Linked DNA regions of Homo sapiens. The protein of the gene in region 1 interacts with the protein of each later gene in a pairwise test. Each region holds a gene or a part of one and is shown on either strand. Other genes may lie near its edges. The genes, in order: BACH2, ZNF774 and CWF19L2.

Region 1 (3,656 bases):
CCCCTCTCAGTGGTACAGTTTGGACAGGACAGTTACAGTAAAGTTAAGGTTTTTCCCAATTTGACATCTTAGTTTTCCTAGAGTAGAGGAGGTTAGGTTTCCAAGAACTGTCTCAGGGACTTGCCATGACTGCTGCTCGAGGAGTTGATAACCTGCTTTAGGGAGTTACTTTGACCCTGGTTGAAGTATTATCCCCAGTAATAGTGCTCAAGGCAGATCCTTCTCCACAAGTCAAAACTTGTTTTCCTGAACTGATCCAGAAGAAGCCAGCATCTATTGGGCTAATTCTGCCCTGCCCTGCTTTCATATGGGATCCAGGTGCCTTCTCTTTCAAGTGAACCCCACGGAGACACCAGAGTCAGAAATCAAGACAGGAGTTTCCACCCCTTGCCAGACGCCAGTGTAATACTTCGCGTGTGTTTTCCCAATCTGTCTTCCTCCACCCCGTAGGGAGCCAAAACGTTAGACCAAAAGTGAAGTGTTAACATACCTTGTATTCTGTAAGATGTTGTAGTTATACCGTGTTAAGCAGCCCTTCCATCTCACAGTCGTTGGCTTCTCCCATCCTTTTTAACTGTTCCCTGGCTTCGAGAAAGATCAAATTAGCGCAGTATTATCCTTTATCAATAATCAGCTTTTTAAAATGACATTCTTTTTTAAATTCTAGAACACAGCATACCCAGCCCCAAACATACCAAATTTAACAGGCTTTCTCTTTGCCTACAACAATATACAAATATATATTCACCTCTCTATGGGTTTGGGTTTTATTTTAATGGCATTATGTTGTAGAGTTAGCAGCTTCCTTTTTTCACGTAGCTGTCTACCATGCACGTGGCTGTAGGTCGATCACACAGGGCCAAGACATGTTTCTCCAATATCTCTCGTTCTCGTAAATCGTAGTTCATTCAGCTGTCACTTATCACCAGACATTTCAGTTGTTTTCAGTTTTTCCCTCTGATAAACATTGCTGCAATAAACATTTTGTGACCCTACTGTTAGTAGTGGTGCATTTATTTTTGTGGGTTAGTTTCAAAGATGGGCTAAAGGTTGTGCCCATTTATTAAATACTACCTAATGACCTACCCAAAATGTTGTAGCAATTCACATATTCATCAGCAACTTAGAGTGTCCAATTTCCCCTATTCTTGCCCATACTAGTTGTCACCAGTCTTTTTAATTTTTGCCAATTTGATGGGCAAAAAAATGGTGACTACTAATGAGGCTGACATCTTGTTTTATGTGTATTGAACATTTATATTTCCTTTCCTGTGAATTGCTGGTTTACCTCTTTGCCTATTTTTCTTTTGTATTGTTTAACTTTAAATCAACATGTAGGAATCTTAATCCCTAATATTAGGAATATTAACCCTTTCTCATAAATGTTGCTTAGATATTCCCTTAGTCTGCTTCTTTATTTATTGTACCTTTTCCCATATAAAAAAATATTAGTTTTATGTAGTCAAGGTATAAGTCTTTTTCTTTATGACTTCTGGATTTGCTATATTCCTTAAGAAGTCAGGTTGGGAATTTTTCTCTTCCAGTAAAAAAAAATGAACAAGTCACATAAGTGAAAATCACAAAGCAGTATGCACAAGGTCCTAGTTTGTTTCCTAAATATACACACCATATAAATAAAATCAGCATAGAGAATAAGAAAAAACTGGGAGCACCGTTGGAGAGGAGTGTAGGGAAAGTTTCATTTCTATGTATGTCTGTAATGTTTGAATTTTATGTATGTCTATCTTGCACAGGTTTATTTTTTAAATTAAGACATAATTCCCATATCATAAAATCCACCCTACTAAGATGAACAATTCAGTGGTTGTTGATATATCCACAATGTTGTACAACCATCACCACTATGTAATTCTAAAACATTTTCACCACCCTAAAAGGAAATGCTGTACCTATTAGCAGTTACTCCTCATTGCCCACTCCCCTCAGCCCCAGGCAACCAGTAATCTACCTTCTATCTCTGTAGATGTACTTGTTTGGGGCATTTGTATAAATAGAATCTTGCAAGATGTGGCCTTCTGTGTCTAGCTCCTTTCACTTTAGCATAATGCTTTGAAGGTTTACCCTTGCCATTGATGTACTCACCAGGTATATTGTCATGTATTAGTACTTTGTTGCTTTTAATTCCTGAGTAATATTCCATAATGTTGATCCATTTTGTTGACTAATACCACATTTTGTTGTTCATTGGTTGAGGGCCATGTGGGTTGTTTCCACTTTGGGGCTATTATAAATAATGCTGCTGTGAGCATTTGAGTACAAGTTGTTTTTAAGACATGTTTTCAGTTATTTCCATAATATTCCTAGGAGTGGAACTGCTAAATCATATAACTTTGTATTTAACCTTTTGAGGAGCTACTAGACTGTTTCCAAAGTGGCTATACCATTTCAAATTCCCACCAGCAGTGTATCAAGGATCCAGTTTCTCTGCATCCTCGCCAACACTTGTTATTGCCCATCTTTTTTGTTAGTGCCCTCTAGTGGGTGTGAGTAGTTATGGTTTATCTCATTATGGTTTATAGGTTTGTTTTTAGATGTTGGAAATTATAGAAAATTACAGTCATTTTCCAAAGTAGTAAGCCTCTTAGTAAGACAGCTTTGTAACTGGACCATTTCTACTTAATTGTAGATTTTAGTAAAGAAGCACCACAGAGAGTTTCTTTGCACAGTCAAAAGTATGGATTTTTGGACTTGCTTTATTAACATGTTTTACACTGAGAGAGATAAAAGTGTATGAGAGTAAGAGAGTGTGTTGGGGGCAGGCAGGGGGCGGGAGAGAGAGAGAGAGAAGGGAAGAGAGAGATAAAGTCCAGAGAAAACATGGAAATGGTACAGAATAGAAGAGCCATCTGACTCTAACTCTTCCCACCCCAATGCTGACTTTGAGACACATGTTGTATGTAAAATTTTCACAATCATTTTTGTGGTTTGGTGAATCAGGCAAGTTTTTAGAAGTGTCTGTAATTGGTCTGCTTAATAAAAAGAAACCTTGCTGGGCAGCATAGAAATCAGCCATATTTCTAATTAAAACAGTGTTTTTATGTTGTCTAGAACATTGTAAGTGTCTGGAATTCCAAAGCACATGTCTGTAAGACGAAACCATGTGACAGAGATAGATAGGGCTAATAAACAGAAATAATAATACCTTGTATCTATCAGGCAGTTGAAACTTTCCCAGGCACTTTCTCCACCTGTCATCCAGTTGTATTCTTCATAGCAACCCTGTAAGCTAAGTAGGGCAGGCGTTATCGCCCTGTGACTCCTAGATCCTCCAAGAACTTTGGGACAGACAGAATGAAGACTTGCCTGAGATCACACAACTAATTAATTGACGTATCACAACTGAATCCCAGGTGTCCCATATTTGTGCTAGAAACTGGACCATGAGAAGAGGGCGTGGAAGGACAATTGCGCGAGAAACATTTCTTCACCTGGGAGGGGAGATTTTGTCATTGCCATCTGCCCAGCACTGAGCTGGCTGTCCTGGTTCCAGCAGCACTGGAATCATCTCCAATGGGCATATTGCTTCCTCCCTCGACAGCTCCCTGGGATCTGAGGGTCTCCTCAGAGTACAGGCGTTAAAGACTTCGGAGAGCTGACCACACCATCAGTGTCTCAGGGTATCATGCTAATGTGAC
Region 2 (3,656 bases), on another chromosome or scaffold:
TGTTGGCATCTTAGAGCTCCAGACCTCTGTAAGATTAATTGTTGCCTCCTTGGGAGAAAAACAATTACTTCCTTATGCATTTTATGGTTTGCAAATGTCTTTGCTATTTATTGTCCTTTTAATATCTCATCATAACTTTTTGACTTATGTATTACTATCCCCCTTTTCCAGCCTGGGTTGGACTCTCACCTCTGCCACTTAACTTCTGAGACTTCTGAGGTCTTTGTGGAAAAGGAGGTAATTTTTTCTGTCACTTAAAAACAGGCTGGGGGCAGTGGCTCACGCCTGTAATCCCAGCACTTTGGTAGGCTGAGGTGGGCGGATCATAAGGTCAGGAGTTCGAGACCAGCCTGGCCAACATGATGAAACCCTGTCTCTACTAAAAATAAAAAAATTAGCTGGGTGTGATAGCGGGCGCCTGTAATCCCAGCTACTTTGGAGGTTGAGGCAGGAGAATTGCTTGAACCTGGGAGGTGGAGGTTGCAGTGAGCTGAGACCACGCCATTGCACTCCAGCCTGGGCAATAGAGCAAGACTCTGTCTCAAAAAAAAAAAAAAAAAAAAAAACAAGGCTGGGCGCGGTGGCTCATGCCTGTAATCCCAGCACTTTGGGAGGCCAAGGCAGGGAGATCACAAGGTCAGGAGATCGAGACCATCCTGGCTAACATGGTGAAACCCCGTCTTACTAAAAATACAAAAAATTAGCCAGGCATGGTGGTGGGCACCTGTAGTCCCAGCTACTCGGGAGGCTGAGGCAGGAGAACAGCGTGAACTGGGAGGCGGAGCTTGCAGTGAGCCAAGATCATGCCACTGCACTCCATCCTGGGCGACAGAGCAAGACTCCATCTCAAAAAAAAAAAAATAAATAAAAAAAACCAAAAACACCTCCAATGCTCTTTCTCAAATATCATGGCTACCCTTCCTCCTGCTTTACTTCTTTCTTTCTTTTTTTTTTTTTGTGGCAGAGTCTCGCTGTGTCGCCCAGGCTGGAGTGCCATGGCATGATCTCGGCTCACTGCAACCTCTGCCTCCTAGGTTCAAGCGATTCCTGGATAATTTTTTGTATTTTTAGTAGAGATGGGTTATCTCCATGTGGTCAGGCTGGTCTCAAACTACTGACCTCAAGTGATCCGCTCACTTCGGCCTCCCAAAGTGCTGGGATTATAGGAGTGGGCCCAGCTCTAATTTTTGTATTTTTAGTGGAGTCGAGGTTTCACCATGTTGGCCAGGCTGGTCTTGAACTCCTGACCTCAAGTGATCCGCTGGCCTTGGCCTCCCAAAGTGCTGAGATTAGAGGTGTGAGCCACTGCGCCTGGCCTACTTCATCTATTATACAAGTAATGTATACTCATTCAATAAAAAGTCAAGCAAAATGAAAACAAACATCATCCCTAATCCCACCAATGAAGAGTTACTATCCTACCAGCATTTTTCTAAGCATATATACAATTTTAAAAGAAGCACAAAAGAATAATATTGGGATTATGCTGTATATTCAGCTGTACATTCTTTCTTCCATGTTGTATTGTGAGTATATCTTTCTTTACATCACTTAAAATAACCACCTAGTATTTTGTTTTATGGAATACAATATTATTTTGTTGATGAAGTCAAACATTAGATTGAACCATATATCTGACCTTTTTTTAACCTATAAAAATAGCAATTGCCTGAGCTACTTGGGAGGCTGAGGCAGGAGGATCCCTTCAGCACAGGAGTTCGAGGCTGCAGTGAGCTATATAATTATTCCTTTGTTGTGGGACATTTAGGTCATTTCTAAACTTTCACCAGGTTGTGATAAACATCTTTTAGCTCGTTTTTTAAAAAGTATTTTTTATTGAAGTATAATTTTATCATTTTCTTAGAATTCTCAGAATTAGAATTGGTGGGTCAAAGAACAGATACATTTCTAAGGTATTTAATACTTTGCAAAATGCCTTCCAAGAAGATTGAATCAATTGATTTATTCCCACAAACATTATATGAAAGTGCGCATTTCTTTATATTCTACCTTTCACAGTGGGTATTATAATTTAAAGAGTCTGGGCCTGGGTGTGGCAGCTCATGTCTATAATCCCAGCATTTTGGGAGGCTGAGGCAGGAGGACCACTTGAGCTCTGGAGTTCCAGACCAGCCTGGGCAACATAATGAGACCCTGTCTCTACAAAAAGTTACATTAACCAGGTGTAGGGGCTTGTGCCTCTGGTCCCAGCTACTTGGGAGGCTGAGGTGAGAGAATCGCTTGAGCCAGGAGCTCGAGGATGCAGTTAACTGTGATTGTACCAGTGCTCTCCAGCCTGGGTGACAGAGCAAGAGCCTGTCTCAAAAACAAACAAACACACACACAAAACACAAAAAAAGAGTCTGGGAAAAATAGCAATAATAGTTAACATTTATTGAAGTTTTTTTTGGAGATGGAGTCTCAATGTGTTGCCCAGGCTGGAATGCAGTGGTGCAATCTCAGCTCACTGCAACGTCCGCCTCCCAGGCTCAAGCAATTCCCATGCCTCAGCCTCCCAAGTAGCTGGGATTACAGGTGTGCACCACCACACGTGGCTAATTTTTGTATTTTTAGTAGAGACAGGATTTCTCCATGTTGGACAGGCTGCTCTTAAACTCCTGGCCTCACAAGTGATCCAACTGCCTTGGTCTCCCAAAGTGCTGGGATTACAGGTGTGAGCTACTGCACCTGGCCAATGGATCTTATTCTTATCCCAATTTTTTTTTTTTTTTTTGAGATGGAGTCTCTCTCTGTCGTCCAGGCTGGAGTGCAGTGGTGTGACCTCGATTCACCATAACCTCTGCCTCCTGGGTTCAAGCGATTCTCCTGCCTCAGCCTCCCGAGTAACTGGGACTACAGGCCTGTGCCACCATGCCCGGCTAATTTTTAGTAGAGACGGGGTTTCACTATGTTGGCCAGGCTGGTCTCAAACTCCTGACCTCGTAATCCGCCTGCCTCGGCCTCCCAAAGTTCTGGGATTATAGGTGTGAGCCACTGAGCCTGGCCTCTTATCCCTATTTTATTGATGAAGACATTGAGACACAGAGTTTAAGTAACTTTCTTAAGGCCACACAGCTTGTAAGAGGCAGGATGATGACTCAGACCCAGGCAGTGTGACTCTTGAGTTTGCACTCATTACCTCTACACTATATTGCCTCAGTGTATCATTGTTATAATGGAATTTCTTTGATTATAGTGAGGTTAAACATTTTTCGTATATTTACAGGCTACTTAACAACTGTTTGTCTTTTTCTCATGGCTTTTTTGACTGCTGCCATTCTGGGAAAATTTTAAAGCCCAACATTATAGTTAACTTCCTTCATTGTTTCTAAGGGTGAGGTCATGGAGGCTTGGTTTCTGATAAAATCCTCTCCATATTTAGCTTTAGCCTTGTACCTTCAGAAATGGTTATTGTATTTACTTCAGAGTTTCTGTCACCTGAGTCTGGTTTTTTTTCTTTATGGGAGGAAAAGGGCTTTTTTTTCTTAACATTTTGGGGAAATCACCGTGTTTTATCACTGTACCATGGCTGCACTTTTTTAATGACACCAAATACACGTTAGAGCTCCCCAGGTGTTCTTCCATACCTAGGCAGGGAGTAGGGCTTGGATTTTGCTCAGGCCTTGTGTGATTGGCTCAGACTCACATCCTATGTT
Region 3 (3,656 bases), on another chromosome or scaffold:
TCATTCTATTATTTACTTATTATTATGGATGAACAGCTGTAAGTCTGTCTTTCCTTTGTGGATAATTTGTTATTTATCTACCCCTATCCATATACAGGCTCACACTTATTCACTCCTTCCCTGATCTAGTCCTTGTAAAGGTTTTTTTTTTTTTCCTTGAGTTTTGAGATTCAGGTATTAGGGTTTTTTTCTGTGTTTTTCTTCTTTCTCCCCCACCCAAGGCTATTGGATGAGTCCTTCTGAGAAATCGGCTGGGGAAATTTTCTTATATATTTTTAAAATTAATGCTCTATTCCCATCATCTTTGCTCCATCTTTCTGGAAGTACTAATAAATGCATATTAGATTTTCTAGAATCAATTGTTCATGTATCTTTTTTTCTTATAACTTACATTTATTTACTACCTTTTCCTAAAATATAGAGAATTCCCAGGTTAATTTAGTTTTCAGCACTGTCTTTTCTTCCTTTTGGTGTATCTTGGCAGCTTTTTGGGACACACAATTTTTTATTTCCAAGTCTTTCTTGTTCTTGAACTATTCTGTTTTTTTTTTTTTTTTTGGTGAGAATCTGTTTTAGCAATTTAACCTCTTGAATCTCACAACCAGTAGGAATTAAGTATTTTTTGCAAAGTTTGTCTCTACTGTTTTCTGTGTTATACTTTGTGTTAGTGCAGAGTGTTTGGTGTAACTGGCTATCCTTTTGGAATCTTTTTGTTATTTAATAATTTTTAATTGTTTACACATTTTTAGAAAGTATTCGTTTCCGTATAGGATGATTGTATGGGTCTTCTTTCACCCCGTTAGTGGGCTTTTCAGTGTGCCACTTGGCAGTGAGTCATACAGTGACATGTGGGGTGCAAGTCACTGAGCCGTTCCTAATTTTAGATATCTTGTTTAATTTTTCTCCTTTGTAGTCAATGGAAATATTTCAGTCAAAATTAGAAGATGCTGAAAAAGCTGCATCCACGAAAGAAGATTATAGACGGGAACGGTGGAGGAAACCCACATATTCAGATAAAGCACAAAATTGTCAAGAAAGTAGAGAATCAGACTTAGTAAAATATGGTAACAGTTCAAGGGATAGATATGCTACAACAGATACTGCAAAAAATAGCAATAATGAAAAATTTATTGGTGATGAAAAAGATAAGAGACCTGGGTCTTTAGAAACGTGTAGAAGAGAATCTAACCCAAGGCAAAATCAAGAGTTTTCTTTTGGCAATTTGAGAGCTAAATTCTTGAGACCCTCTGATGATGAAGAACTGTCATTTCACAGCAAGGGCAGAAAATTTGAACCACTTAGTTCATCTTCAGCATTGGTAGCTCAGGGCTCTTTGTGTAGTGGTTTTAGAAAACCCACCAAGAACAGTGAAGAAAGATTAACATCATGGAGTCGCTCTGATGGGAGAGGAGACAAGAAACATTCAAATCAAAAGCCATCGGAAACCAGTACTGATGAACACCAACATGTTCCAGAAGACCCAAGAGAAAAATCACAAGATGAAGTCTTGAGAGATGACCCTCCAAAAAAAGAACATCTACGGGATACAAAGTCTACATTTGCTGGGTATTTTATCATTTTTTAACCTAATAAGTTAAGATCCAGAGAGTTCAAAGAACAGAACTGTATTTTTAGAACATCAGTTATTAGCTGTGACTATGATCTCACATTTCTTAAAATTGATAGAAGGGGTAAGATATGCAGATTTAACAGGCAGTATTGTGGTATGGATTGCATTTTATTTCATAGGTTTTTTTTTTTTTAAGAGCTGAAAGCAGTAGCTATATTTGTTCAAAATATGTTGCTGCTTTGCAATTTAAAAAACTGAATGAGTTAATGTTTTAAATGTATGTGCTGCAGGAGATATTTTGGTAGATTTTGTTACCAATGCCATTACTTTCTAAGGAAATTATCTTATTGTTGAGTATAATCATAATCATAAATACTGCATGTCTATAGGAAGTCTAGGAGACAAAAGGAAAACACGCTGCCACGGCCCAAATATAAAGTGACAAATACATGCCAGAGATCTTGCAGAGGGGAGCATGAATTATGGTTGTTATTTTGCACAAAGAAAGAAATAATCCACTTTGGGCAATTGACAGATTTTAAAGATAATATTAGAGTTTTAAATATAAAATATATGTTGCATTTATGTAGGGCTGGGTTAGAAGATGAGGAAACCCAGGTTGAATGGGACTAAACCTAAGAAAATTTGCTTTAGAAATTTGCTGGCCCTGTTGGAGATAGCCAGAAAAAAAAGTGTCCAAAGGGTAACAACTTACACGTGAATGATCATTAAAATATGTTTAAAAATAGCACCAAATGAGTGGGACACTAAAGGAAGAGGTTTTAGGAAATAATAGAAACACATGGTTGTAGTAGATAAAAGCACTGTGGTTTGGGGTTGTGAGTCTGATAAATCACTTTTGTTAATGACTCCATCTGAAGCAGTGGATTATAAAACTCAGTGTGTAATTTTCGGTGGGAGGGAGCTGGCAAAATCTGAACTGAGTGATTAAGCCCCAGTCAAATGGACTCTGGTTCACATCAGGGCTTTCCTCCCAGGAAGTGGAAGGAGAAATCCAATTGTATTGACTAAACAAACATGGCAGGGATTATTGTCTAAGGCTGTATGCATATGTAATTGTCCAGTCTTCACTCCAGGTGCCCTGGGTGGTAGACTATTTCCAGTTCCCAGTCACTAGGGGAATGAGGCTCTTATTTCCTGATATCATTAGGATTGGGTTAGCATTTGGATGATCTGTAGGCCTTCTTCTGTGACTGTAGCTAAGCAAAATGTCTGCAAAGTAATACCACACGATTAGTATTCCAACCGGTTGTCTGATTGCTGCATATTTGTATGTCTTATTTAAGTTGTAAGCTTCTGATAGATACACTATAATACAGGCACTCACTAAAAGCTGTGTATGTATATAATTTTTCGGTTTGAAGACAGCACTCACTAAAAGCTATATATGTGTGTATATATATGTATGTATACATGTAATTTTTCCTTTGAAGACAGTATTCTTTGTTCGCTGTGTTAATTTGATGGTACAGAGGGTTTGAGGCTTTCTATGAATTCTGTGACTGGCTGGAGAGGGAAAGAAAAATCTAGGAATCATCCAAAAAAAAAGATTCCTGAGAATGTAGAGTGGTTGTAAAGTAGGAGACCAAGACAGGACCTTGAAGAATGCCTAGTTGTTACAAATAATCTTTGTCTTATAAGTGAATGGTCATGATTGGAAAAATTAGTTGAATTAGTTTTTACTTCTTTGTATGTATTGTTCATATATCTTTACCTTTCTTGTTATTTACACCAGTATTATTTTTTAGAACATGCCATTTGTAATCTTAATAAATGTATATGTATAAAATTTAAACAATATAGACAGAAGAGTATAAAACAAGAATATGAAGCATAGGTGAGTATAAAATGAAAAAGTAAATCTCCCTTTCATGTCACTTCCAACCCTAATCCTATTTGCCAGGTTAACAGTGTTGGTAGTGTCTTTCCAAATTTTTTAGTGTATTTGAAAATGTGTAATATATATATTTAACTTAATGTATAAAATTTTATAAAAACATAACTTATATATTTAATATATGTAAGTTAAATAGCTCTACAATGCATATACCATTCAAAATCTTGG

The links.
Region 2: the proteins of BACH2 (region 1) and ZNF774 interact in binary tests that used the Homo sapiens proteins (3 or more experiments, as listed by UniProt).
Region 3: the proteins of BACH2 (region 1) and CWF19L2 interact in binary tests that used the Homo sapiens proteins (3 or more experiments, as listed by UniProt).

What each region holds. Positions count from the first base shown.
Region 1 is NC_000006.12:89,943,832-89,947,487, reverse strand, and holds part of BACH2 (transcription regulator protein BACH2), read left to right. Parts: intron 1-3,656. UniProt on the Homo sapiens protein: Transcriptional regulator that acts as a repressor or activator. Binds to Maf recognition elements (MARE). Plays an important role in coordinating transcription activation and repression by MAFK.
Region 2 is NC_000015.10:90,355,180-90,358,835, forward strand, and holds part of ZNF774 (zinc finger protein 774), read left to right. Parts: intron 1-3,656.
Region 3 is NC_000011.10:107,426,709-107,430,364, reverse strand, and holds part of CWF19L2 (CWF19-like protein 2), read left to right. Parts: intron 1-913; coding exon 914-1,566; intron 1,567-3,656.